Homo sapiens: one gene and its partners. The protein of the gene in region 1 purifies or fractionates together with the protein of each later gene. This does not show direct contact. Each region holds a gene or a part of one and is shown in the gene's direction. Other genes may lie near its edges.

The links.
Region 2: the proteins of PACSIN2 (region 1) and THG1L purify together in Homo sapiens (affinity purification with mass spectrometry; 3 studies listed by BioGRID and IntAct, with this or other methods). This does not show direct contact.
Region 3: the proteins of PACSIN2 (region 1) and WIPF2 purify together in Homo sapiens (affinity purification with mass spectrometry; 3 studies listed by BioGRID and IntAct, with this or other methods). This does not show direct contact.
Region 4: the proteins of PACSIN2 (region 1) and GAB2 purify together in Homo sapiens (co-immunoprecipitation; one large-scale study listed by IntAct). This does not show direct contact.
Region 5: the proteins of PACSIN2 (region 1) and PPP1R12A purify together in Homo sapiens (affinity purification with mass spectrometry; one large-scale study listed by BioGRID and IntAct). This does not show direct contact.
Region 6: the proteins of PACSIN2 (region 1) and CARS1 purify together in Homo sapiens (affinity purification with mass spectrometry, with the first as the bait; one study listed by BioGRID). This does not show direct contact.
Region 7: the proteins of PACSIN2 (region 1) and HELZ2 purify together in Homo sapiens (affinity purification with mass spectrometry; one large-scale study listed by BioGRID and IntAct). This does not show direct contact.

What each region holds. Positions count from the first base shown.
Region 1 is NC_000022.11:42,875,576-42,879,595, reverse strand, and holds part of PACSIN2 (protein kinase C and casein kinase substrate in neurons protein 2), read left to right. Parts: intron 1-426; coding exon 427-548; intron 549-2,585; coding exon 2,586-2,708; intron 2,709-3,262; coding exon 3,263-3,459; intron 3,460-4,020.
Region 2 is NC_000005.10:157,729,791-157,734,556, forward strand, and holds the start of THG1L (probable tRNA(His) guanylyltransferase), read left to right. Parts: upstream 1-1,629; 5' UTR 1,630-1,650; coding exon 1,651-1,841; intron 1,842-2,008; exon of another isoform or gene 2,009-2,219; intron 2,220-2,639; exon of another isoform or gene 2,640-2,820; coding exon of another isoform or gene 2,821-2,825; intron 2,826-3,077; coding exon 3,078-3,254; intron 3,255-4,766. UniProt on the Homo sapiens protein: Adds a GMP to the 5'-end of tRNA(His) after transcription and RNase P cleavage. This step is essential for proper recognition of the tRNA and for the fidelity of protein synthesis.
Region 3 is NC_000017.11:40,222,014-40,226,033, forward strand, and holds part of WIPF2 (WAS/WASL-interacting protein family member 2), read left to right. Parts: intron 1-4,020. UniProt on the Homo sapiens protein: Plays an active role in the formation of cell surface protrusions downstream of activated PDGFB receptors. Plays an important role in actin-microspike formation through cooperation with WASL.
Region 4 is NC_000011.10:78,411,233-78,415,252, reverse strand, and holds part of GAB2 (GRB2-associated-binding protein 2), read left to right. Parts: intron 1-4,020. UniProt on the Homo sapiens protein: Adapter protein which acts downstream of several membrane receptors including cytokine, antigen, hormone, cell matrix and growth factor receptors to regulate multiple signaling pathways.
Region 5 is NC_000012.12:79,805,893-79,809,912, reverse strand, and holds part of PPP1R12A (protein phosphatase 1 regulatory subunit 12A), read left to right. Parts: coding exon 1-118; intron 119-1,335; coding exon 1,336-1,430; intron 1,431-2,582; coding exon 2,583-2,687; intron 2,688-3,579; coding exon 3,580-3,747; intron 3,748-4,020. UniProt on the Homo sapiens protein: Key regulator of protein phosphatase 1C (PPP1C). Mediates binding to myosin. As part of the PPP1C complex, involved in dephosphorylation of PLK1. Capable of inhibiting HIF1AN-dependent suppression of HIF1A activity.
Region 6 is NC_000011.10:3,002,706-3,005,722, reverse strand, and holds part of CARS1 (cysteine--tRNA ligase, cytoplasmic), read left to right. Parts: intron 1-289; coding exon 290-357; intron 358-3,017. UniProt on the Homo sapiens protein: Catalyzes the ATP-dependent ligation of cysteine to tRNA(Cys).
Region 7 is NC_000020.11:63,557,473-63,561,319, reverse strand, and holds the end of HELZ2 (3'-5' exoribonuclease HELZ2), read left to right. Parts: intron 1-45; coding exon 46-238; intron 239-390; coding exon 391-525; intron 526-622; coding exon 623-841; intron 842-992; coding exon 993-1,149; intron 1,150-1,224; coding exon 1,225-1,392; intron 1,393-1,949; coding exon 1,950-2,074; 3' UTR 2,075-3,234; downstream 3,235-3,847. UniProt on the Homo sapiens protein: Can degrade highly structured RNAs through its concerted ATP-dependent RNA helicase and 3' to 5' exoribonuclease activities. Shows a strong preference for pyrimidine over purine residues for its nuclease activity.

The sequences.
Region 1 (4,020 bases):
GGAGGCTCAGCAGACATCTGGGGAGGCCACAGGGGCCCATGCTGGCCTGAGGGGGCTGGGACTGAGAACCTTGGTGGGTGGGGTCAGGAACAGGAGGCCCCGGACCTTGCCCTGGTCCTCGCCACCCCCGCTGGTCCTCTGGGAGGTGGGCAGCATGGCCTGGGGGTGGTTGTAGAGGTGCAAGCCTCCAGATCCCCTGATGAGCCCCTGCTTTGAACAGTGAGGAGGGGCTCAGGTCGTTTGGGTTCATAAGTGGGGCATGGGGAGCCTGAGGTCTTCTGGGAAACCAGGGAGAGCTGGGGCCCTGAGTCTACACATCAGATGCACAGAGCCAACTGCAGGCTCGCTGGGCAGGAACTGAGGACAGACGTGGCTTCCAGCAAGTAGTGAACCTTTGGTTTCTCTCCCTCGGCACCTGTTGCCTAGGAGTGGTCCGCAGACCTGAATCGAACCCTCAGCCGGAGAGAGAAGAAGAAGGCCACTGACGGCGTCACCCTGACGGGCATCAACCAGACAGGCGACCAGTCTCTGCCGAGTAAGCCCAGCAGGTGAGTGGGCGCCACCTCCATCCAAAAGAGGCCGTTCCATGGTGGGGGCCCTGGGCAATCTGCATGGTCCAGGGCAGCCCCGGCCTGGACACCTGGGAGGTTCCTGGGCTCCTGAGCTCTGTGGGCCGTGGCCCAGCCTGGACACCTGGGAGGTTCCTGGGCTCCTGAGCTCTGTGGGCCGTGGCCCAGGGGCATCTCCAGGGAAGGTCGTCTTCCTGCCTGGTGCCAGAGCTGCTGACAGATCCAGAGAGGGAGGCTTGGCCCTGAGCTTCAGACCTGAGTGGGGAGGAGCTGATGACAGGGCTGGCATTCATGTCCCCAGGGATAGCACCGCCCTGCCCGGACACTGGTGGAGGTGCCACCCTGGTTCCCTCAGGCAGCTGAGGTCCTGCCGAGGTTCATGCTCACTCTGTATTGTGTGCAGGCGCCAGTCGAGGGAGGGACAGGAGAGGACTGCCAGGCATCTCCTTTCCAAATTACCTCTTCACTAGGAGCATTGGTTATTTCTGACTTAGTCATTGGCTGAAAATGAGAGATATAAGGGTGGCACTGTGGTCATTAGAACCTTCTGGAAAGTGTGTGCTAGAGGAGGTCTTCCTATAGGACCTGCCCACAGGCCTCCATGTGACACTCAGTAATAGTCATTTCATACGGGGGCTTCCTAAGAAGGCTTAGCCCAGGTTCCCTTGGCCTTCCTGCAGCCCCAGGCACTGAAGCCCCCACCCAGGCTCCCCAGCAGGTGTGGCTGTCGTCATTCCGCTGCTTTGCACGCTGTCTGGGCAGGTGGGCTCGGCAGTAAGTGCCTGTCCCAGGGATCAGGCCAGCACCTGTATGCTTGGGGGTGGGAATGGGAAAGAAGAAACACTGCCTCAGAGGAGACCCTGGGGGCCCTGGGCTGGCCAGGGTTGCTGCACAATCCAGCCGCCCCCACCAGTGCCGTCTCACAACAGTCTGCTAGAGAAAGGTGCCAAGGAGGGAGGAGGGCCGGTGAGCTCAGACATGTGGCCTGGATATTGGCCTCCAGCAGGCCTAGGTCAAGTACCACTTGCCAGGCTGAAGTGGATGAGGCAGTTACTGGCCACTCAGGATCACCCTGGTGGCATTGGAGGCATGTCCTCGCCTCCCTTCCTTGGTTCTGGGGTGGTGGGTGCTCAGGCTGAGCAGTCCATCCAGTGCTTTGGGGGCCTGTGCCCTGAGGCCCTGGTCTTGGAAGTAGAAGGTGCTGCTGGCCAGGGTAGCCCGGTCCTAGGATCAGTTACTTGGTGGGGTGCCAGGGCCCTTGGTGCCTGTCTGATTGGATTGCTTGATGGTCTGCCTGTGGTCTTCGTAGTGTGTAACTCAGCTCCCGGCTCCCAGCCCTCAGGCAGAGCTTGGCCCAGATCTCTCTGGTTCCCACACTGGGCCTGGCAAACAGTAGGCAGTTGCACGACTGGATTTTCCCTCTGGAGCACCAAAGGAATCTTCTTTCTATCTAGAAAAGACGGTGCCGCAGGCCCTGGCCCTGATTTTGGAGGCTTCAGCTCCACAGAGCAGAAGAGCGAGCCCTGAACCCCTTAGTAGTCAGGAGGAGGCCGTGTGGGCTGAAGAGCTCAGAGCCCTCTCCCACTCATCCATGGGAGCCGGCCCCTCCCACACTGTCACTCTCAGAGGAGACCCTGAGGGGCTTTTTGACCCCCCCAGCTCACATTGGTGGGAGTCAGGACAGAGGAGAAGCCCTGAACCTGGAAACGACTTTTGCTCCAGCTGTGGCTTGTCACCCGCCCCTGGGCCACCCCAGGGCCCCTGTTCTGGACGGACTGTCTCCAGGTGCAAGGAAGGAAAAGGGAAACCAAGTCCTCTCCTAGGCTCCTGGACCGTGTTTCACAGCTGAAGTATTGCCCGCATTCTGCCATAGTAACCTTTCTGTTGAAACACCACGGTCCCCTCCGGTCACAGGAGGAGCTGATTTGTCTCTTGAGATCCTGCAGCTAGGAGTTGCCAGGACCCTCACGGGCCCCTGCAGAGCTGGGATCCCCTGAAAGCTCTCTCTCTCCATAGCACCCTTAATGTCCCGAGCAACCCCGCCCAGTCTGCGCAGTCACAGTCCAGCTACAACCCCTTCGAGGATGAGGACGACACGGGCAGCACCGTCAGTGAGAAGGACGACACTAAGGCCAAAAAGTTGGTGAACAAATGCTTCCTCTGCTCCCACCGCGCTCACTCTGTCTCTCTTCCTCTCTCTCTGTCCAGGGGTCTCACCCCTCGGCACTCGGCAATGCACGGAGCTCTGCAGGAAGTGGGCACCTGGCGTGCCGCACCCTGGCCCACTACCTGCTCTCTGGCACAGGCTCTCTGGCACCCCCATTCCTCGGGGAGGGCACAGCTAACAATCTTAAGTTGCTTTTTCTCTGTCCTCTGTTAACCCTTCAAGGCCCTAGCAGCACCATGACAGGAAAACAGACAACGCGCAGTCTGTGCTGGGGACTAGAGAGTGAGGCCCCAGGTTGGCCTCTGCTGTGGGCATCTCCAGCCGCCTGCCCCTGGAAAGCCTGTTGATGGCTCAGGATGAGTGTGGATGGCATGAACTCACACTAGCACTGGCTCCACCTGTGCTCCTTCGGAAGGAGCCCTCAGCCCTGAGCCCCAAGGCTCCAGTGCCCTCCCCTTGCGGGGCGGGGGCCTCACACCCTCTGCCGCCCTGTGCTGAGGGCCCTGTGGCCTCCCCTTTCTTGCAGTGTGAGCAGCTACGAGAAGACCCAGAGCTATCCCACCGACTGGTCAGACGATGAGTCTAACAACCCCTTCTCCTCCACGGATGCCAATGGGGACTCGAATCCATTCGACGACGACGCCACCTCGGGGACGGAAGTGCGAGTCCGGGCCCTGTATGACTATGAGGGGCAGGAGCATGATGAGCTGAGCTTCAAGGCTGGTAGGTGGGCTCCCCCAGCATCCAGGGGAGGAGGGCTTCCAACCTGCAGGCTGTGGGCGGTCTTTTTTGTTTTTTAAGTCTGGAAAAGTTCTTGCTAGTTTCACTTGTGAGTCACTGCAGGCCCTTCCCCAGTGCCCTGGCTTCATTGTCAAAAGCAGCCAATTGGCTGGATGTGGTGGCTCATGCCTATAGTCCCAGAGCTTTGGGAGGCCGAGGTGGAAGGATCGCTTGAGCCCAGGAGTATGAGACCAACCTGGGCAAAATGGCAAAACCTGTCTCTACAAAAAATACAAAAAATTAGGCCAGGCATGGTGGCTCACGCCTGTAATCCCAGCACCTTTGGGAGGCCAAGGCAGGCAGATCACTTGAGGTCAGGAGTTCGAGCCCAGCCTAACCAACATGGTGAAACCCTGTCTCTACTAAAAATACAAAAATGAGCCAGGCGTGTGGCGGGGCATCTATAATCACAGTTACTCAGGAGGCTGCGGCAGGAGAATCACTTGAACCTGGGAGGTGGAGGTTGCAGTGAGCCAAGGTCACACCACTGTACCCCAGGCTGGG
Region 2 (4,766 bases), on another chromosome or scaffold:
ATTCATATTGATAAGTAATTTTGAAAAATTCACCTAATGAAAGTAGGGCTCCTAGAGGAGGCAAGATTTGGTTGTCTCCTGGTCAGCTTGGAGAGAGGAGTTTGTGGAAGTAAAAGGTGAGGAATGATAACCTACAGAAAACTGACTTCACAGCAACAGAAACAAAGAAAAGATGCAGGATGTCATAATTTATGTCTTGGTCCTGCCACATATGTGACCTTATGTAAATTATTTTTTTCTCTTTGAGTCTCAGATTTCCCCTTTGTAAAGGTGAAATCCCAGTTCCTCTTTTGCATCCCTCTGATGTTACTCTGAGCATCAAAGGAGTGATGACTACCATTTGTGGTACTATTATGAGGATATACACACATACTGATATAGATCCCTGTATGGATACACAAAAAACTGGTAACAGTAACTGCCTAAAGTATGTTGTTAGGAGTCAGTGAGAGACTTTTTGCTACATATAAAAGGATTTATATTGTTTGAATATTTTTCTTTTTCTTTAGAGACAGATTCTTGCTCTGTCACCAAGGCTGGAGTGCAGTGGCTAATGATGGGTCACTGCAGTCTCGAACTCCTGGCCTCAAGTATCTTCCCACCTCATCCTCCCATAGCTAGGACTACGGGCATGGGCTACTAAGCCTGGATAATTTTTTTTCTTTTTTGTAGGAACAGGGGTCTTGCTACGTTGCCAAGGCTGGTATGAATCTCCTGAACTCAAGCAATCCTCCTGCCTCTGCCTCCCAAAGTGCTGGGATTACAGGCGTCAGCCACCGTGCCTGGCCTGAATATCTTTCTTGAGGATGGAAAAAAAAAAAAAGTAAGTAAGTAGGTAATGAATTTGAAAGAGCTTTGTAAATCACAAAGTATGACACAAATATTAGGATTTTATTTTTACTATTATCCACCAGCAACAAGATATCAAACACTGGTTCTGTGATTATTTAATGGTGAAAAAGTTGAATAAATCAATTTAGTATACCCATATGTTGGAATATTGAGTCCATTTTTCTTTTAAAAATCACACTTTGGAATAATTGATGATACTGGCAAATGCTCAAGCTGAGTGGAAAAATATATAAACATTGTATAGGCGAATAATTCCAATCTTGTGCATTCCCTGTGTAAACCTACATACACAAAAAGAAAAAAGACTGAAAGGAACCATCCACAATGCTTTGATGGGAAAGACGGAGAAACAAAGTGTTAATTTTCTTAACTATAGTTTTGGTGTATTCCAGATTTTCTACAAGTTAATAAATGCCACTAAGAAAAGGGGAAACATCACAGCTACACCTTCAAACACCAGAAAAAGAATTTTTTTTTTTTTTTTTTTTTTTAGGTTGGGGTATGATTTTGATCTGGGCACTAACGGGGACACTGATTGCTTTTGCCAGTAAGTCAAGACCAGCAGATAAAAAATAATTTTTAAAAACCTCGTGAGACTGATTTGCCGCAGGACGGGAGGAGGAAGAAGCAAGCGTGGAAGGTGCTAACGGAGGAACCTAAACCTCCATCCTCTTTGCCTGGGAGGTTAAGAACTACAGGGAGAGGCGAGAGAGACTATGACTGCCCTACGGCTAGAGTAGCCGCGAAGAGAACACTTCCGGGGCGGGGCTATCTGGCCCTTTCCTTTCCGCGTGTAGAATGTGGGGCGCCTGTAAAGTTAAGGTTCACGATTCCTTGGCCACCATTTCCATCACTCTGAGACGGTACCTGAGATTGGGGGCGACCATGGCAAAAAGCAAGTTCGAGTACGTGAGGGACTTCGAGGCTGACGACACCTGCCTGGCACACTGCTGGGTGGTAGTGCGGCTGGACGGCCGGAATTTCCATCGGTGAGCGAGCTCGACTCGGGGCGTCGCGATGCGCCAGCGCTTCCGGGGAATCCAGCTTCTTCCCTTGCAAGTCCTCCCGCCCGCTCCAGTCACGGTTACCAGGGTAACGCGGTAGCCAATGAGTGCGCAGCATGGAGCATTGCCCCGCCCTGCGTGTTGGCTAGGACAGTGCCTGAACGCTGGCTGTTAGCGTAATTGAATGGGCGATGTGCTCCCGTGATGAGGATCTGGCTTGGAGTGCCCGTGTTAAGTGAACAGAGACTTGTTAGCAAGGACCTGTTGTTAAAAGTCACTCTCATGCACAATATTTAAGCTCTTAAGCCAATTGCCTAGCTATTCTGTTAGATATCTTTGAATGCTGACTGTTCAGAAGTCTGTGTAAGCCTTGCTTGTGGGCAATACTTAACGTCTGTGCTTCATTATCAGTAACAGGCCACATGGACTAGATTCAACAGAGAGTCAGAAAAAAAGAGAAGGCTGGGCGCGGGAGGCAGGAGGATCACTTAAGGCCAGGAGTTGGAGACCAAGTTTTTGTTTTTGTTTTGTTTTTTCTGTGGTTGTTGTTTGTGAAACTCCGCCACTACAAAAAAAAAAAAAAAAAAAAAAAAAAAAAGAGAGAGAGAGAGAGAAAGAAGGAAGAGAGAAAGAAAGAAAAAGAAAAAATTTAATTTGCCCGGCGCAGTGGTGCACACATGTAGTTCCAGCTACTGGGAAGGCTGAGGTGGAAGGATCGCTTGAGCCTGGGAGGTCAAGGCTGCAGTGAGCGGTGATTGGACACTGCACTCCAGCTTGGGTGACAGAGCAAGACCCTGTCTCAGAAAAAGAGGGAGGGGGAGAAAGAAATATAACAGAAAGATGGGAATTTAATCTTTGAAGAGGGCTGCATTGTTAATGATTATTATAACTAACATTTATTGAGCACTTACTAGGAGCTAGGTATGATTACTTTTATCTTCTCCCTAATCTTCAGGACAACCCAATGAGGTAAATATTCTTTTATTCCCATTTCACAGAAAGGAGAGTTGAGGCTTAGCATTTCTGTCTGGCTTTCTCAATTTCAGGGCAGGAAAAAAACTAAGTTCTTAAGAAAATGGATCAGGTTGTGGCTAGTTGAGCATTTGAGTTCACAGTGCTATTACATTATCTTCCTCCAAACAGCCTCTGTTATCTAGCAACAGAGCGTGTTGTTAATGACAGGCTTCCATCCATGCTTTCTTCCCTTTTTCCCCTGTGAAGGTTTGCTGAGAAGCACAACTTTGCAAAACCCAATGACAGCCGTGCTCTCCAGCTGATGACCAAATGTGCGCAGACTGTGATGGAAGAACTAGAGGATATTGTGATCGCGTATGGACAGAGTGATGAGTACAGCTTTGTGTTCAAGCGGAAAACCAATTGGTTTAAAAGAAGAGCCAGGTAATTCCATGACCTAACTCCTTTCTTCAGAATATTTCCTCCCAGCATCTGGTTTTCTGTTTATCTTAATCGCAGACTTACAGGCTACAGATGATGTCTGCAGTATTTGTAACTGCAGAGTACATGTATATTTCCTGTTTAGATTGTTGTACTTCCATCTGATAGCCGAGCATTCTGTGTGCCTCTTTTATCTGATTCTTTCCCCACATGCCCCATAAGATTGGTTTCTAGACTGACCTGGCATTGAACATTAAGATTAGAAACAGAGACTATAAGAATGTAATATTAACAATTCATAGGTTGGCTTTAGCCAGTGATAGTCTCTACGTGCATTGCATTACACTGTTCCTCAAGACAGATCTCATTATAAAATACACAAATCTGATATTTGATTTGGCAGTATTTTGAAACGCTGTATGGGAAACAAATCATATAATGAATTGGTTTTTTCTTTCTTTCTTTTTTTAATAGAGGTGGGGTCTCTCTGTGTTGCCCAGGCTGGTCTCAAACTCCTGGCCTCAAGCAGTTCTCCTGTCTTGGCCTCTCGAAGTGCTAGGATTACAGACATGAGCCACCACGCCCAGCCTGAATTGGCATTTTTTTTACAACAATGGTTTCTCTCCTTTCATGACTGTAAACACAAACAGATCAGGCGTGGTGGCTCACGCCTGTAATCCCAACACTTTGAGAGGGTAAGGGAGAGGATTACTTGAGCCCAGAGGTTTGAGACCAGCCTGGGCAAGATGGTGAGACCTCATCTCTACAAAAAATTTAAAAATTAGCCGGGCTCAGTGGCATGTGCCTATAGTCACAGCTACTAAGGAGGTTGAGGCAGGAGGATCCATTGAGCCAAGGAATTTGAGGCAGCAGTGAGCTATGATTGTGCCAATCCACCCCAGCCTGAGGGACAGAGAGATTCCATCTTTTAAAAAATAAAATAAAATTTAAAAATACCCCTTGAATCATAAATTCGTATCACATCCTGTAGGGAAAGGTTTAGTATCAGTAGGTTACTTAATAGAACTGGAAGGAGAGGCAGGCTGCATTTAAAATACATAACTGGCCAGGTGTGATGACTCACGCCTGTAATCCCAGCACTTTGGGAGGCTGAGGCAGGCAGATGACTTGAGGTCAGAAGTTTGAGACTAGCCTGGCCAACATGGTGAAACCCCATCTCTACTGAAAATACAAAAATTAGCTGGGCGTAGTGGCCTGCACCTGTAATCCCAGCTACTCGGGAGTCTGAGGCAGGAGAATCACTTGAACCCAGGAGGCAGAAGTTGCAGTGAGCCAAGATGGTGCCATTGCACTCCAGCCCAGGCAACAGAGCAAGACTCTGTCCTAAAAAAAGAAAAAAAAATACAGAACCAAGGTATTAAAATAGTGTTTCTTAGCCAAATGCATTTTATCTCCTGGCTTTCTGGGCAGTTTGTGTACTCTCTGTGGTACCCACAGGTCTTATCATGGTGTTGAACTAATTCCGTGTATTTTTCTTTTTCTTACTCCACCCAA
Region 3 (4,020 bases), on another chromosome or scaffold:
TTGATGAAGACTAGTAGAATGTAGTGTTGGTTTTTTTATTTGTTTATTTATTTATTTTGAGACAGAGTCTTGCTGTATTGCCCAGGCTGGAGTGCAATGGCACAATCTTGGCTCACTGCAACCTCTGTCTCCTGGGTTCAAGCAATTCTCCTGGCTCAGCCTCCCAAGTAGCTGGGATTACAGGCGCGTGCTGCCACGCCCAGCTAATTTTTGTATTTTTAGTAGAGACAGGGTTTCACCGTATTGGCCAGGCTGGTCTCGAACTCCTGACCTCGTGATCTGCCCACCTTGGCCTCCCAAAGTGCTGGGATTACAGGTGTGAGCCACCGCGCCTGGCCGACCTGTCTCTTAAAGGAAAACAAGGCTGGGCGCGCTGGCTCATGCCTATAATCCCAACGCTTTGGGAGGCCAAGGTGGTGGATCACCTGAGATTGCAGTGAGCTGAGATCGCGCCATTGCACTCCAGCCTGGGCAACAAGAGCGAAACTCCACCTCAACAACAACAACAACAACAACAAAAGGAAACATGTTTTTCTGTTTCTTCCTCTTAGCCTTGCTCATGTGTGTGTGTGTTTGTGTGTGTGTGTGTGTGTCTGCGTGCCAGCCAGGGAAGAACTGGTTTTGATTTGATGCATATTCAGTTTTTTTTTTTTTTTTTTTTTTTTTTTTTTTTTGAGACAGAGTTTCGCTCCTGCTGCCCAGGCTGGAGTGGAATGGCGCAGTCTTGGCTCACTGCAACCTCCGCCTGCCGGATTCAAGCGCTTCTCCTGCCTCAGTCCCCCAAGTAACTGGTACTATAGGCATGCACCACCACGCCCAGCTAATTTTTTGTATTTTAGTAGAGATGGGGTTTCACCATGTTGGTCAGGCTGGTCTCGAACTCCTGACTTCAGGTGATCCACCCACCTCGGCCTCCCAAAGTGTTGAGATTACAGGCATGAGCTACCACACCTGGCCGCATGTTTAGTTTTTTAACTCTTATTAATGTCAACTTTTAAAAGTAAAAATTTCATATTGTGTTACATTGGTTGCCATCAAGATGAAGATAGGGAAGTTAAGAGTTGGGGAAGGTGGAGATGAATGAAGTCAATTGATGAAGACTAGTAGAATGTAGTGTTTGTTTTTTTATTTGTTTATTTATTTATTTTGAGACAGAGTCTTGCTGTATTGCCCAGGCTGGAGTGCAATGGCACAATCTTGGCTCACTGCAACCTCTGTCTCCTGGGTTCAAGCAATTCTCCTGGCTCAGCCTCCCAAGTAGCTGGGATTACAGGCATGTGCCACCTGGCTAATTTTTGTATTTTTAGTAGAGACAGGGTTTTGCCATGTTGGCCAGGCTGGTCATTTACTAATTCCACCTCACACTTGATACTAGAGTAGTGTTTACCCTAGCTGGTACTGATAAGTTATGTGATAGCACCAAGGTGAAATGCAGGAGAGGTGTGAACATTGGAGTTTTCAGGTTTTACTGATGGCTTTTACGAAGGGAAGAGATTCTAGACTCACTAGGTGTTTTTAGGAAAAAAAAAAGGCAAGAGGCAAGAGACAGAAGTCTTGTTCTGTTGAAGAGAAAATTTTTTTTTGGGTTTTTTTTTTTTTTTTTTGAGACGGAGTCTCGCTCAGTTGCCCAGGCTGGAGTGCAATGGCATGATCTCTGCTCACTGCAACCTCCACCTCCCAGGTTCAAGCGATTCTCCTGCCTCAGCCTCCTGAGTAGCTGGGTGCCATCACGCCTGGCTAATTTTTGTATTTTTGTAGAGACGAGGTTTCACTGTGTTGGTCAGGCTGGTCTCGAACTTCTGACCTTGTGATCTGCCAGTCTCGGCCTCCCAAAGTGCTGGGATTACAGGCGTGAGCCACCGCGCCCGGCCCGAGAAAATTATTAAATGTTCTTTCTTTACTTGTGTTCTCTGATTGGGAGAGTAACCTGGTATATGTTAGTCTGTTTTCCTGCTCTGAAATAACTGTGAAATTCATGGGCTCTTGGTTCAGGCAGCTTCAGCAAACATAGTCTTCTTACAACCCCAGGAAGAGTTGCAGGCTACAAAATATATGTACTTATTTGGGAGTAAAAACCTGCTTAATATTATGCTATTGCAACCTACAGTGTACCTTTTTGGTTTGTTTTTTAAGGGGATTTTGAGATAACATATGGAGGCTCGGTGCTCCTGGGCGGACTTTTGGTACAGCCTGCTTATTTTTTTTTTCTTTTCTTTTCTTTTTTTTTTTTTTTTTTGAGACGGAGTCTCACTTTGTCCCCCAGGCTGGAGTGCAGTGGCGCAATCTCGGCTCACTGCAAGCTCCGCCTCCCAGGTTCACGCCATTCTCCTGCCTCAGCCTCCTGAGGAGCTGGACTACAGGCGCCTGCCACCACGCCCGGCTGATTTTTTGTATTTTTTTTTTTTTTTTTTTTGTAGTAGAGACGGGGTTTCAACTTGTTAGCGAGGATGTCTTGATCTCCTGACCTTGTGATCCACCCGCCTCGGCCTCCCAAAGTGCTGAAATTACGGGCGTGAGCCACCGCGCCCGGCCCAGCCTGCTTCTTTAACATAATGATTTTCCATTTTTCCTATCCTGTCACAGTTTTCCGTTGCTCTGCTTGAGCCAGTCCTATGTAGAAAGTGGCAAATTACACATTTTTTCTCCCCTTTTAGTCTCTGGTGGACATCTTGTCTGTGTCACAGTTTGATACTACCAAATTGAAAGGATTCTTCACTGCTTCAGATGGGGAGGGTGACAGAAGCTGAGCTGTTTCCTGGGTCAGATAATGGCCTCTGTCAAAGCAAAGAATAGTTGTAGAGACACAAACTGGGCCCTTGAAGCTGTGACTAACATTTTGGCAACATGCATCCCTTTGCCAAATAACTTCTTTTCTTCTTGAGTGTGATTGTTGATCTCCTTCTCAAAGTAGGCTCTTGTTGCTACTATTCTTCACACAACTCCCAAGCAAAAGTTGGCAGAGTTCCGGTTGACTGACTGTGTCTTGAGGGATATGCCCCGGATTAGAGTGGATGGGGCGTTCCATGTCAAAATGAGGTTCATTGGCAGATCCTGAGAGCTGCTTTGCAAAGAAATAGAGGCAGTACTCTTTACTGAATGTTCTTGCGGTCCTTTATCTTTCTTCTAAATTCAAGTCTGTTTCTTATTCATCTAGTGATTAAATGCAGAATCATTGCCTTTGCCTAGCTTCGTGGGCATTGTGGAAGAGAAGACAGTATTTCCAACTTTTTTTTTTTTTTTCTTTTCTCACAAGCCATTGAGCCTGAGGAACTACAGGCTAAATTTATGAGCATTTCTTGATATCTACAGAGGGCTACTAAAAAAAAAATGCTGAATAGACCTTTATGGGGAACAACAATGTTAATAGGAAAAAAAGGTGATATGTTTGCTAATGTCTATGTCAGTCTTAACTCTCTTTAAGATTTTGGCTCATTTTGGCTTAAGAGCCTGCAGAAGTATGTAAGTTATCAAATAGGGGAGCCAGGAATTGGTTTCTTCCTTGCCATTTAAGCTTGGCAAAGTTAGAGCAATTTGGAATGGCTATCCAACAATGTGTTCTACTTAGTAAATACTCTCTTGTTTTTCAGGGGATAGTTAGCTAAAGGTAGGGTTATCTCCAATATGTTTTGGGATGGATCGTGAAGATCATTCCCTTTTTATTTTGAGACAGGATCTCTCTCTCTTGCCCAGGCTGGAGTGTGGCGGCGTGATCTGTAGCCTCGACCTCCCCAGGCTCAGGCTCAGGTGTTCTTCCCACTTCAGCCTCCTGTGTAGCTGGGACTACAGGCGCACGCCACTATGCCTCACTAATTTTTATTTTTTGTAGAGATGGGGTTTCGCCATGTTGCCCAGCCTGGTCTTGAACTTTTGCCGGCCTCCCAAAGTGCTGGGATTATAGGTGTGAGCCACCAGGCTCAGCCATTATAATTGATTTTCAAAAAAAATTTAGTTTCTTAAGCTTCATGGATTCAAATTGAGTGCCATTTGGATTTTGAGGCCCCTCAGTGGAAATAATTTGTT
Region 4 (4,020 bases), on another chromosome or scaffold:
CATATGTGATAAGGGGAAAAAGTAGTTGAACTAGGTTATAACTATTTAAAACGATTTTTTAAAAAACTGACTTAATTTGAAGTCTGGGCGCAGTGGCTTATGCCTGTAATCCCAGCACTTTGGGAGGCTGAGGCGGGTGGATCACTGGAGGTCAGAAGTTCGAGACCAGCCTGGCCAATGTGGTGAAACCCCGTCTCTACCATAAATATAAAAATTAGCTGGGCGTCATGGAGGGCATCTGTAGTCCCAGCTACTCAGGAGGCTGAGACATGAGAATCGCGTGAGCCCGGGAGGCTGAGGTTGCAGTGAGCCGAGATCGTACCACTGCACTCCAGCCTGGGTGACAAAACGAGACTCCATTTCAAAGAAAAACAAAAAAACTTACTTAATTCGGAAAGACGGGAAGGTGTAGAGGGGAAAAACATCTTAGAAGAAGCAAAGGCAAATGTTTGAGCAATTAGTTTTCAGGGATTTTTTTCATCAGCCTTTTCTAGTTAATTAAGTATAAGTATAAGAGACCTATCTGCTATTTACTGAGTGCCCTGGAGAAATTGCAAAAAGTGTCTCTGGAAAATGCTGACTATTGCCTCTGGGGCATCCTGATATGGCTGCAGTGGGAGGCCGGCAGAAGTAACAACCCTCCCATCGTGCCTCAGTGTATTTGTGTGTGTATGCGCGTGCATGCAAATGCATACACACGTACATGTATATAATTATTAAACAGAATTTTCTTGAGGAAAAACATTTTATTAATATGACCTACACTGCATTGTAGTTTTCTATCAATTTCACTGGATTAAAAGATTGAGGGAATAAGATTGGCAGACTACCCCCTAGTGGCTAACTTGAAGAAAGTTGTGCACAAATTGTAAAGAACTACTGCATTAAGGTAACAGTAATTGTTTATTTCCATTATATTTATTAAATATACTTATTAAATCTATGTCCCAGGCACTGGATCAGGTGCTTGGAATAAAAATCCAGTAAACAGAAAAAAAAATTAATCCAGTCTTTCAGTCTTAGCAATGGCTTTGCCTTCTCCTTCAAAGGAAAATTGAAATGATGAGGGAGTAGTTGTCTGTACGTACGATGAATGGCCACATTTTCAAATTTACTTGTATCTGCATAGTTCCTTTCTTTCTTCCTTTTTTTTTTTTTTTTTTTTGAGACAGAGTTTCACTTTTGTTGCCTAGGCTGGAGTGCAATGCACGATCTGGGCTCACTGCAACCTTTGCCTCCTGGGTTCAAGCGATTCTCCTGCCTCAGCCTCCCAAGTAGCTGGGATTACAGGCATGCATCACCACACCTGGCTAATTTTGTATTTTTAGTAGAGATGAGGCTTGACCACGTTGGTGAGGCTGGTCTTGAACTCCTGACCTCAGGTGATCCACCCGCCTCGGCCTCCCACAGTGCTGGGATTACAGACAGACATGAGCCACCGCGCCCAGCCTGCATGGTTCCTTTCTTGTTTCCTTTTCTTAGAGTAGATGAAGTGCCACTTCTATCTGAGCTAATCCTGCTACTTATACTTTGAATCATATCTTCTCCTCCCTACTCAAATAATTCTTATCCTGTAACACATCTTCAACTTCTTTCCCTCTCTGTACTACCTACTTTTTTTCAGGGATAAACTTGGTGGTGGTTTATGCAGTCTTCCTTTCTCCCACCTTCTTCTCAGTCGGCTCCAGTGGAAACCTACTTTGTTATTCACCAAAGCTATTCTGACAAAGGCACCAGCGATACCCAGGTCACTAAACTCAGAGGATGATTTTTTACTCCTCATTTTAATTAATCTCTTCACTGCTTGGTCATAGTTGACCACTCTTTTTTAAAACACCTTCCTCTTATCTTGGCTGACACTATAAATGCCTGTTATTTCTCCTTTTCTGGCTACTCTATATTTCCTTTGCTAGACTGACCCTTTTATCCAGTCCTTAAAGGTTGAAGCTCCTTTATAGTCATAGTGGCTGTGTGGTTTCTCCCCTTTGGCAACCTTGTCCATTCTACTGGCTTCAGTTATCATTTGCATGGTGGTCATCAAGTTAAATTTCCATCTCAGAGTTGTGTTCTGAACTTCAGACTTACATATCCAACTGTTAACTGGGCATCTCTATTTGAATGTTTCCCAGTCAACACAAACTCACCACTTCCAAAACTAAACTCTTCTTTGTTCATCTCTTCACTCCACATCTGCTCAGTAAACAGTGCCACTAAGCACCTACTTGCTCAGATGAGAAACTTGGGCATCATCTTTGACTCCCCGTCACCCACTATCCCACATCTAATCTGTCACCAAAACCCATTAGTGGTATCATCTAAATATCTTGTTATACGCTTCTTCATCCCCACTGCCATGACTTTTAGGATTATTTTAGTAGCCATCTGTTGAGCACTTACTTTGTACCAGGCACTATGCTTAGACCATTGATCTTTTAATGTAGTAATTTAGCCCTATAATAAGGGAAGCAACTTACCCAAAGTCATCTAGCTTTGTCCTAAAGCCTGGGCTTTTTAAAAAAATTAAACATTTCATTTTGAGGTAATTCTACATGCACATCTAGTTGTAAGAAATAGTAAACAAAGATTTATGTAGCCATTATCCAGTTTTCCTTAATGGTAACATCTTGCAAAATTATAGTACAGTATCACAACAGTATATTGACAATGATACAGTCAAGATACAGAGCATTTCCATCATGATAGGATTTTTTATGTTGCCCTTTTATAATCGTATTCACTACCATCCCACCCCTACCACATCCTTAATCTGTGACAACTACTAATCTGTTCTCTGATATTTCATGTGTGTTATTTAAATGGATTCATGCAGTACTTAAGATTTTGAACTTTTTTTTATTCAGCATAATTCTCTGGAGATTCATCCTCATTTCATGCATCAATAGTTATTGTTTTTTATTGCTAAGTAGTATTTCATGGTATGGATGTACCACACAGTCTGTTTATTTAACCATTCACCCGTTAGTTCTCATTTACATTTCCCTTATGGCTAATGATGTTGAACATCTTTTCATATGATTATTTGCCATCTGTATATCCTCTTTGGTCAAATGTCTTCAAGAATTTGAGTATTTTATATATAGGTTTTTTTTTTTTGAGATGGAGTTTTGCTCTTGTTACCCAGGCTGGAGTGCAATGGCATGATCTCGGCTCCCCAGGTTCAAGTGATTCTCTTTGTTGTTGTTGTTGTTGTTGTTGTTGTTTTTAGACAGATTCTCACTCTGTCACCCAGGCTGGAGTGCGGTGGCACAGTCTTGGCTCACTGCAACCTCTGCCTCCCAGGTTCAAGCGATTCTCCTGCCTCAGCCTCCTGAGTAGCTGGGACTACAGGTGTGCGCCACCATGCCCAGCTCATTTTTGTATTTTTAGTAGAGACAGGGTTTCACCATGTTGGCCAGGATGGTCTCAATCTCTTGACCTCGTGATCCGCCCACCTTGGCCTCCCAAAGTGCTGGGATTACAGGCGTGAGCCACTGCGCCGGCTTTCCTGGTTTTTTTTTTTCTACACATTTTACAGGTTTATGTTTTTCCTTTAAGTCCGTGATCCACTGTGAGTTAATTTTCATGTAAGATGTGAGACTTAGATTGAGGTTCTTTTGTTGTTGTCATTGTTGTTGACAAAGCCATCCTACTTCCATTGAATTGCTTTTCCGTCTTTGTCAAAAATCAGTTGGACGTATTTGTGTGGGTCTGTTTCTGTTGTCTCTGTTTTGGTCCATTTTTCCATGTGTCTGTCCCTCTGCAAATACCATAGAATCTTGCCAACTCTAGCTATATTGTAAGTCTTGAAATCTGGTAGCCTGATTCCTCTACTTTATTCTTATTTTTCAAAGTGTTTTAGCTATTCTATTATCTTTACCTTTCAATACAAATTTTAGAATAATCTTGTTTATGCAAAAAAAAGAAAGTCTTGCTGAGATTTTAATAGGAAGTGCATTAATCCTGTGTACCAATTTGGGAAGAAATTACAGCTTTACTATATTAAATCTTCCAGTCCATGAA
Region 5 (4,020 bases), on another chromosome or scaffold:
TGGTGCACTTGCTGAAATCACAGCATCTAAAGAGGGTCAGAAAGAAAAAGATACTGCAGGTGTTACACGTTCAGCTTCAAGTCCCAGACTTTCCTCCTCTTTGGATAATAAAGAAAAGGTAATCTATTTCACAGTCTGGTTTCTATGAAAACTGTTATGATTTCTTTTCCAGGAACATCAAATCTGGTAGATTTTCTGCTAGTTATCTTTAGATCTAGGTATCAAGTTAATTAACCTTAATGAATTACATAAGACAAATGTAATTTATACAGAATTATAAATACTGGAAAGATCAGATGTATTTGCCTAAAACATAAATTATGGGACTATACTCCGTTAAAGGAATCTATTACCTTACTTGAGAATTTATAATAGAACTGTATTAAGGAGCAGGCTTATTTTGTTTATTATGATTCAAGAAACTTTCTGAAGTTTAAAAAACATAGGAACACATTTATTCTAGAATGTTAGTATACTCATAAGTTACATTTATTCAGTATCTGAAAAAAAATACCAGATTTTTCATCTACCATATTACAAGCAACTTTGTCTTAATGAGTAAATTTAATAACTATTTTGAGAGGTGGTATTAATACTGCATTATATAGGATGTACCACAGTTTATTCAATACTAGTATTTATTTCTACAGCATATTCAGTGCTTGAACTATTTTTTTTGCCCATACAGTTTTCTTTCTATACTTAGAAATGTTTCCTTATATCAGAAATTCAGATGAAATTTCTCATCAAGTAATTCTAATATTTTTGCTTTTTTATCAGTTTACTGTGCAGTTGGTTTCCAGGTATTTTATGCCAGCTTACTAGGAATGTATCAGAGTGTCATTGTCACTACACACTCTTAGCCATATTTGGATAAATATAATTTAAATAATATTTGTTTTGACTATTTTGATGTATTTGAGAGCATTGATTATCAAGGTTCTAAATAGCTTATATAATATAAATGCTTGAGACCTCTCAGTGAACAATATTTGAAAGTTTATTTCTCTGGAAGAAATAAAGATATTTCAGCTTATGACACAGTATTAATCTGTTAGAGAAGTTTTAGAAAAAGTCATTAAAATCTGGAGAAATTTTTTTCCTTTCTTAGTAAAATATTATCTGATTCCAGGCTAAAAGAGAAAGAAAACTAATTTGAACAGGCTGATTATTGATTGACATTAATTTTAGAGTTCAGCTAGGAATTGTTGAAATACTGTAAACTATGATAGCTATGTAATTATAATTATTGAATAACCTTTTCTTAATACTTTTAGCATTGCCTATAGTCAGTACCCAAATTAATTTTTACTTATTTTTTTCCCTGTTGTGTAGGAGAAAGATAGTAAAGGAACTAGGCTTGCATATGTTGCACCTACAATACCAAGACGACTAGCCAGTACATCTGACATTGAAGAGAAAGAAAACAGGTGAGTTTATTTTGATTTGCTTTATGCATTCACTATAAAATCTTTATTATCTAGCATTAGAGTTAATACATGAGCATTGTAATTATGTGCGGATATGTATTGTGGGAAGAGATGGAGGATATTCCTGAAGGAGAAAATACCAGGTACATAGTCCTGAGGAGGTGCAGGCTTGGTATGTTCATGAAATAATAGCAAAGAAGATGTGGCTGGAACAGAGTAAGGGGAAAGTGGGAGGAGATAAGGTCATGAACTAGTATGAGTTCTCTAAATATTTGGAACATTTAGGAAAGGGGAAAGAAGAAGGAAAGCCCTTACTTAATCATTTTAGTTTGTTTTAAATATTTTTGTTTAAATATTGTTTAAATATTTTAGTTTCTTCCTGTTTTTCAGCTTATAGAATTTTATTTTTTTAATTTAATTATTTTTATTTTTATTTTTATTTTTTTTGAGACAGAGTCTCGCTCTGTCACCCACGCTGGAGTGCAGTGGCGCAATCTCGGCTCACTGCAACCTCCACCTCTCAGGTTCAAGTAGTTCTCTGCCTCAGCCTCTCAAGTGGCTGGGATTACAGGCACCTGCCACCCTGCTCAGCTAATTTTTTTATTTTTAGTAGAGACAGGGTTTCACCATCTTGGCCAGGCTGGTCTTGAACTCTTGACCTTGTGATCCACCTGTCTCGGCCTCTCAAAGTGCTGGGTTACAGGTGTGAACCACTGCACCCGGCCAATAACTTTTTAATATACTTTTAATCATGTTATAATATCTAATTTTTTTATTTTTTTCCCCTAAGATCTCATAAGCAGTCTTCTATGTTAATATATATTTTTAATAAGCATTTTTTTTGTCGGCACATAACATACTATAAAGTAGATCTTCTGCGGTTAAAGTAAGCATCTCCCCTACTTTATATTTTGTGATCAAAAAGCATATTTCTATAAATATCTGAATTTTCCCCCATACTTAGGGGAAAAATTATACCTTAGGGTATATAATCTTAGTACTGAAATTACTTTATCTTCTTGATTAGTATTCCTAAGTGTCCTCCCAAAGGTTTTTACTAGTTTCAGCTTATACTAATATTTACTAGTGTACCGCTTTCTTAATCCTATTTTAAAATTATGTACCAGAATCTGAAGGGTGTTCTTTTAACAGAGATTCTTCAAGTTTGCGAACAAGTAGTTCATATACAAGGAGAAAATGGGAAGATGATCTTAAAAAAAATAGCTCAGTTAATGAAGGATCAACGTATCATAAAAGGTAATAATACTATTCTTAAGCGGTTTTTATGTATTCATTTATAAAAATATGAGGCAATTTGTTTGGAGCCCTCAGTTTAACATCATTTTAAACAAATATGTGTTTTTATTAAATACGAGTTTTTGTTGTTTAAAACTTACTCTAAACACAGGATATATATTTAAAGATAGGTGATAATTTGTTATGCCTATTATATAATTAAGCTTCAAATATTATGAAATGTTTTTTGGATTGTTACATATTTAAAAGGAACTCCTTTAGAAGGAACTCCTTGACTAGAACAACTTAAACAGGCCAGTGTCTTAATGGATCTAGTTGTCATTGTTGATCTGGAAAGATTTGGCTTGCCCTAGAACTCAGAGCTATGGAAATGCCTTCAGTTGGAATGTTGGTAGTATCATATTGAAGAGGAAAAAAAAGCCCTATAAACAATTTCTTTACTAAAAGCAACCAAAAAGAATAAGATGTGAACAAGTATCATGTAGGCATTGGTTACTTCCGAGGTATCTGACCCATTGCTGAAATAATTTCCTTCAAAAAAATGTCAACGTCTTGTTTTCCCTGGGTAATACAAAACCAAAGTGTGTTTTTCAGGCTCAGCCTGGCATGACCATATGGTGTGGAATAGTTTCAAAAATATGAAATATCAGATCATCTTTGTCTTGTTGAGAAAGTTGGGAGGAGGCACTAAAATGATACACTACCGAATTAAGTGAAATCTTCTAAACTCTAGCAAGTTGTAGATGCAACTCTTGGTGCTGGAGCTGGTGGTGTATTTAGGAACACAGTTTTTAAATTTTTTTTCTAGCCTTGTAATTTATATAATGTATAGACATTAACTATAGAATACACATACAAACACATCCTATATAGATATGACTCTTTTGTTTAGTTGCTCCTTTGGTAGAAGACAAGATGATTTGATTAGTTCTAGTGTTCCAAGCACCACATCAACACCAACAGTTACCTCTGCAGCTGGGCTTCAGAAAAGCCTGCTTTCCAGCACAAGCACTACTACAAAGATTACAACGGGTTCTTCCTCAGCAGGCACACAAAGCAGGTAAGTCACAGATACATTTTGTGCTCAGGTCTACTGTGTGCTTATGTATGTGCATGCGTTTTTGTTTAGAAGATTGTGGGGCTCTGGATTTTTTCATTTATCTTGTTAAATTTATTTGCAGACAAAAATTGGTTCCAAAATGAGGCAATTATGCATGTCTGGGGGAAATTTTAAGTTCCTGAACTATGAACTTTCCTTGAATTAGACTGCTTAAAATGTAAATTTCTCTCTTTGACAACTCTGGGTGAGCTTTTTGGTTCATAATTTAAGGAT
Region 6 (3,017 bases), on another chromosome or scaffold:
AGGCAAAGGTTGCAGTGAACTGAGATCGTGCCACTGCACTCCAGCCTGGATGACAGAGCAAGACTCTGTCTCAAAAAAAAAAAAAAAAAAATCACACACACACAAACCAAAATGTTCTCCTGTGCTTCACTGCTGCTATGGAGGTTTTTGTTTGTTTTTCTCCTGTGGGCCCTCGCTCTGACTGGGCAGCACCGCATGGTCTGGGCAGGGCAGGGCAGGGCAGGGCTGGCCCCGCAGTGGGGACGGCCCACAGAGCCCAGACTCTTCTCACACGCAGTTTATTTTGCAGGACTGCCCACAGTGGTGAAACTGGTAGACAGAAACACCTTATTAAAAGAGAGAGAAGAAAAGAGACGGGTGAGTAAAGTGAAAATGACTTAAGCGTGATATTTGTTGAAAATGTAAAAACCATTGCGATTATTACATAGTTTACTTTTTAAGCATTGATGTTTACACTTTTATTAAAATCCCAGTATTTATAAATGTCAGAAAGAAAAATTAACTAGTATCTTCTAATGAAGGACCTCTTTTAAAAAGATTATTCCCTCAGTTTAAGTGAAAACCAGTCACTTTTGGCAAACTGTGAAGCTGACTTTTTTTTTTTTTTTTTTTTTTGAGACGGAGTCTCACTCTGTTGCTCAGACTGGAGTGCAGTGGCACGATCTTGGCTCACTGCAACCTCCACTTCCCTGGTTCAAGGGATTCTCCTGCCTCAGCCTCCCAAGTAGCTGGGACTACAGGCACGCACCACTGTGCCCAGCTAATTTTTGTATTTTTTTAGTAGAGATGGGGTTTCACCATGTTGGTCAGGCTGGTCTCAATCTCCTGACCTCGTGATCCACCCACCTTGGCCTCCCAAAGTGCTGGGATTACAGGCTTGAGCCACCACGCCTGGCCCGAAGCTGACATGTTAAGATCCCAGTCCCACCGTGCCCTCACCTGAGTGGCGCGTGTCACTGATGCATCTCCACCTCCTATTCCCAGCATACTCCCCACCTGCACCCCACAACGCCCCCAGGATCAGGGATGGCCCAAGTTCCTCGGTGCCCAATAGGACAGAAGAACAGGAACAAAAACGCAATGTCAGAATCTCTGGGCACAGCGCATGGGGTACCCTGGGATGCAGGCAGCAGGATGAGAGGCACCTGGGCCCCCAGTGCACACCATGGGAGGTGGGCCATGGGGGCTGTTGCCACCAGCAGGTGGGTCCCCAAGAGGCTTAAAGCAGGAGACCACCGTGGAGGGCGAGTTTGGATGCCACAGCTCTCAGGAAGGAGGCTCTGGGAGGAACTGAGGAAGGAGAATCGACAGGGTGGTTGATTGATAGATGGGATGTACAAGGTCAGGGAAGGCATCTATGCCTAGCCCTGCACTGGCCCAAGGCACGAGGGGAGAGCTCATGCCAGATCCAAGTGTGGGTGGCTGGAGTTTGCAGTGCTTTGGAGGAATAACGAACTGGAACTCTGGGGAAAGCTCTAGACAGTGGTGAGTGGTCTGCAGGTCCATCCTGGTTGGCAGGTTGGGAAGAGCTGGGCTTGCCCTGTGAGGTTGGCTGGTGTGACTGCCTCATCAGGGCCCCTCCCCATTCCATCACAGTCACTCACCTAGCCTTGGGTCTCGCCTGCCGTGCTGTGCTGTGAGGTGGCCTGGTGCTGGCTGTGCAGACGCCCTGGCTTGCTGCACTCCCTGGCAGAGTGCTCAGAAGCAGGAAACAGACAAGAGGAGCGCCAGGGTGGCCCGGCCAGAGCCTCACAGGCCTTGCACTCTTTGTGCTGGCCTTTCCACTGGCCACCTTGGCTGTGGCCTGTGACTTCTAGTAGCTCCTGTTTCCCAACCAAGGGACTCTTACCTCACCAAGCTGCTGCAAGAAGGCATCCCCAGGCCCGAGGCACCATGGGGGAGGGGTCCTGCCTCTCCCTGTACCATTCCCACCAGCACATAAACACATACTAACTTTTAAAGGGAAAAAGCAGAAATCCTGAGCACTGTGTCTCTGGTTCCTCCAAGCTCAGTGCCCAGCTCCTCCCCCACCTCAGCCCCTTTCCCTCGGCCAGCCCTGCTCTCCCTCCATCTATCTCGAAAGAGCTCGATCCTGTTGGCCCCAGCCCCATCCTGAGTCTCTGAGACCTTTGTGCCTTCCTGGTTTCTTTTCCCTAGCTCTGTGTGTGGCGCCTCCCCAGGAGACCTTATCTGGTCCTGCGGCTTCTCCACCATCTATCTTGTAGCCGGTGGCCCAAAAACAGTTTGCCCAGCTGCCTACCTGATAGCTCCACTGGGCCAGGAAGCCTCTGATATCTAGGCTGTCCAAAGTAAATGTGATTTTCAACTCCCCAAACTTGTTCCTCCTTCCTGCCATGGAGGGCGTGCCTACCTGATAGCTCCACTGGGCTGGGAAGCATCTGAAACCTAGGCTGTCCAAAGGAAAGGTGAAAATGTGATTTTCAACTCCCCAAACTTGCTCCTTTTCCGTCAGTGGAGGGCATGTCTGTTCGTGCAATGGCTCAGGCCAGAACCTCCCAAAGCAACCGAGGGCTTCCCTCACCGGCACCCAGCCTGCTGGCTCCACTAATAAGCTCTCCCTGCAGCATCAGACTGTCCTCGCCCCTGCCCGGGTGCTGCCTGCTGGTTGGAGTGGGCTCTGGTCTCCTCACCTAGCCCCCAAGGCTGCCCTCCGCCCACCATCCCCATCCTGCCCTGGCGCTCTTGCTCCTTCCCAGGTACCCCAAGACCCACTCAGGATAACCCTCACAGTGCTGTCCTGGTCATTGCCTTACAGATCCTCTCTCCTTGGGCCAGGCTCACCATGCTGGTCCATTTCTTCATGTTAGTGGTGCCTGGATCTTTTAGCATTGGTTCTGTTTGTCTGCCTGCTGCATACCTTTGCATCTAGGGCAGGGCCAGGCACCCAGGGGTGCCGCTGAGGATCCCCAAAGGGAATGGAAGAGGGTCGGTGTGCTGCCCGGCACATGGGCTTGTCTCCCCACAGTGGGGAGGGCCTGGTCAGAGTTCAGCCCTCC
Region 7 (3,847 bases), on another chromosome or scaffold:
CCTGCAGCATGGGGGCCCTGGGGTGACAAGCAGTGTCCCCGGCAGGTACAAGAAGGTCTTGTGGGAGGCTCGGAAGTTCGAGCTGGACCGGCATGAGGTCATCCTCTGCACCTGCTCCTGTGCAGCCTCTGCCAGCCTCAAAATCCTGGACGTGAGGCAGATCCTTGTTGACGAGGCAGGCATGGCCACGGAACCTGAAACCCTCATCCCCCTGGTGCAGTTCCCACAGGCCGAGAAGGTTGGTCGGCGGGGGGTGTGGGCAGCATGAGCAGGCGTCCCTGGCACAGTCTCCCACCTGGGGTGCCCTGTGTGTGCAGACGCGGGTGTCGTGTGGGGCTGGGGTCCCTCTGGGTCTAGGGGTGTCAGGGCCAGGCCTGCCTATTCCTCCAGGTGGTTCTTCTCGGAGACCACAAGCAGCTGCGGCCTGTGGTCAAGAATGAGCGGCTGCAAAACCTGGGTCTGGACCGGTCTCTGTTCGAGCGGTACCACGAGGACGCACATATGCTGGACACTCAGTACCGCATGGTGAGCCCGCCCCACTCAGCCCCCAGCCCACCTGCAGCCCCTGGGGGGCCACAACCCCGCGTGGCAGCCTCTGACCAGCGCACATCCTTGCCTGCAGCATGAGGGCATCTGTGCCTTCCCCTCTGTGGCGTTCTACAAGAGCAAGCTGAAGACGTGGCAGGGCCTGAGGAGGCCGCCCAGTGTCCTGGGCCACGCTGGCAAGGAGAGCTGCCCTGTCATCTTTGGCCACGTGCAGGGCCACGAGCGGAGCCTGCTGGTGTCCACGGACGAAGGGAATGAGAACTCCAAGGCCAACCTGGAGGAGGTGGCTGAGGTGGTGAGTGTCTGGTGCCTGTGAGTCAGGGAGGGCTTTCTGGAGGAGGTGGCTGAGGTGGTGAGTGTCTGGTGCTTGTGAGTCAGGGAGGGCTTCCTGGAGGAGGGCAGGAGAGACACCAGGGTCCGCTCCACCTGCCCCCTCGGCTCCTCAGGTCCGTATCACCAAGCAGCTGACCCTGGGGAGGACCGTAGAGCCCCAGGACATCGCCGTCCTCACGCCCTACAACGCGCAGGCCTCTGAGATCAGCAAGGCCCTTCGGCGAGAGGGCATCGCCGGGGTGGCCGTGTCCTCCATCACCAAGAGCCAGGGTGAGGCTGGGGGCTCGTGGGTGGGGCCGGGAGGGTGGGCGCAGCGGCAGCAGGGCCTCACCTCCCATCCCGCAGGGAGCGAGTGGCGCTATGTGCTGGTGAGCACCGTCCGCACCTGTGCCAAGAGCGACCTGGACCAGCGGCCCACCAAGAGCTGGCTCAAGAAGTTTCTGGGCTTCGTTGTGGACCCCAACCAAGTGAATGTGGCTGTCACGCGGGCCCAGGAGGGGCTCTGCCTGATCGGTGAGGGCGGGGCTGGGCTCTTCCAGGGTGGGAACACAGGTGAGGCCAGGGCTGGGCTAGGGAGCTGCCGACTCCTGCCTGACCCTGACTCCGACCTGACCCTGACTCCTCCCACCTGACCCTGACTCCTCCCACCTGACTCTGACTGACTCCCATCTGACCCTGACTCCTCCCACCTGACCCTGACTCCTCCCACCTGACCCTGACTGACTCCCACCTGACCCTGACTCCTCCCACCTGACCCTGACTCCGACCTGACCCTGACTCCTCCCACCTGACCCTGACTCCTCCCACCTGACTCTGACTGACTCCCATCTGACCCTGACTCCTCCCACCTGACCCTGACTCCTCCCACCTGACCCTGACTCCTCCCACCTGACCCTGACTCCTCCCACCTGACTCTGACTGACTCCCATCTGACCCTGACTCCTCCCACCTGACCCTGACTCCTCCCACCTGACCCTGACTGACTCCCACCTGACCCTGACTCCTCCCACCTGACCCTGACTCCTCCCACCTGACCCTGACTGACTCCCATCTGACTCCCACCCTCACAGGAGACCACCTCCTTCTGCGCTGCTGCCCCCTCTGGCGTAGCCTCCTGGACTTCTGCGAGGCTCAGCAGACCCTCGTGCCTGCCGGCCAGGTGCGCGTCTGCAGGAGGCCAACTATGCCTTCCTGAAGAGCCCTCTCCACCTGCAAGGTGCCAGGACTGGGAGGGAAAGTCCAGGGCCCCCCCACCCTCCCCACCACCCTCCGCCATCAGCCTGCCTGGGCCAGCCTGCCTCCTGGCCTCAGGATCTCCCTGGGGCAGGAAGTGGGTGGACTTGGAGGAGGAACGGCAAGGGCCGGTCCCCACACTCTTGCTCCTCCTGGGCATCTGGGGACAGGAACACCTCTCAGGGTGGCCAAGAGGGGCTTCCTTGGGACCAGTGCAAGGAAGTTCTGCTGTCCCTGGGAAGTCTCAGAACCAGGAAGGAAACCCTGTGGAGGCTGCCCTTTGACCTTTGGACGCCACCTGTAATCACTCTGGATGGTGTCTGTGGAGTTCAGGTTTATTTTCTATTTAAATGAACTAAAAGCCAGCATCCTGCCGGGCGTGGTGGCTCACGCCCATAATCCAGCACTTTGGGAAGCCGAGGCGGGCAGATCACCTGAGGTCAGGAGTTCGAGACCATCCTGGCCAACATGGTGAAACCCCGTCTCCACTAAAAATACAAAATTAGCTGGGCGTGGTGGCGGGCGCCTGTAATCCCAGCTACTTGGGAGGCTGAGGCAGGAGAATCGCTTGACTCCAGGAGGCGCAGGCTGCAGTGAGCTCTGATGGTACCACTGCACTCCAGCCTGGGTGACAGAGCGAGACCCTGTCTTAAAAAAAAAAACAAAACAAAACCAGCATCTGTTACTGGAACAGAGACCTCAGCCCAAGCTCAGGACAAGGAGGCCTCCCTGGGAGAGGGGGCCTTTCTCCCACCATCACCGCCTGTGTCCTTCAGGGGCTGCTGGAGGGCAGCCCAAAGCCAGGGGCCCACCCCGCCCCACCCCACCCCACCCCACCCTCTGAAATGTGAAAAGCCTGCACTCTTCCTGTGGGCTGCGCAGTGGGCTCGGGGGTTGGGGGGTGCCGGGGCGATGCTTCCACCCTGGACTGAGTGTTCGGGGCAGCCTGCTCGGCTGTATGTTTCTCGCACGCTCACCCGCTTCAGTGCGGCTCTGTCCCTGCTGCCGCCTCCAGTCCTGAGGGAGGGGCTTGCCCCACCTTCTACATTCCAATTTTTATATCTTTGAATTATGTGATTAGATATTAATTTAATGATAAAACCACTCTGAAAGCTCTTCTCACTTCTGGGTGTTTGAGGTCTGGCTGGGGGGCAAAAGTGGATGGTCACTGTGCTTGGTACGCAGTTGTGGAGGCTGTCGAGGGCCTACTGCAGAGCGCTGGGCGCAGGGGCGTGGGGAGGGCGGTTTTGGGACGCGGCCGTGGAGGCCGTCGAGGGCCCACTGCAGAGCGCTGGGCGCAGGGGCGTGGGGAGGGCGGTTTTGGGACGCGGCCGTGGAGGCCGTCGAGGGCCCACTGCAGAGCGCTGGGCGCAGGAGCGTGGGGAGGGCAGCGACCCCCCCTGCAGGGCCGGTGTCTCCGGCTGCCTGTGTGGGGAGGGGAGGGCCGTGCCTGGTGTGGTGGGGACAAGCCACAGCTCCAGAGCTGCTCCGGTGTCACCAGGCTGGCCAAGTCCAAAGTCCCTGAGGCCACCAGCCTTGACTGTCCTGCTGGTCCCACTTTTAAAGCTGCTCCCCAGGACCCCCTGGCCGCTGTGGACTGGGGTCCCTCCGCACCTGGCCCATTTGTGGCTGCGTCCACAGGGGCTCCTGTGGCCTCCCAGAGCCAGCTCGGGGGTCAGATGGTCGCGGGGGCTATGGTCACTGTGGGAAAAGAGGTTCTGGGCATCTGTGGAGG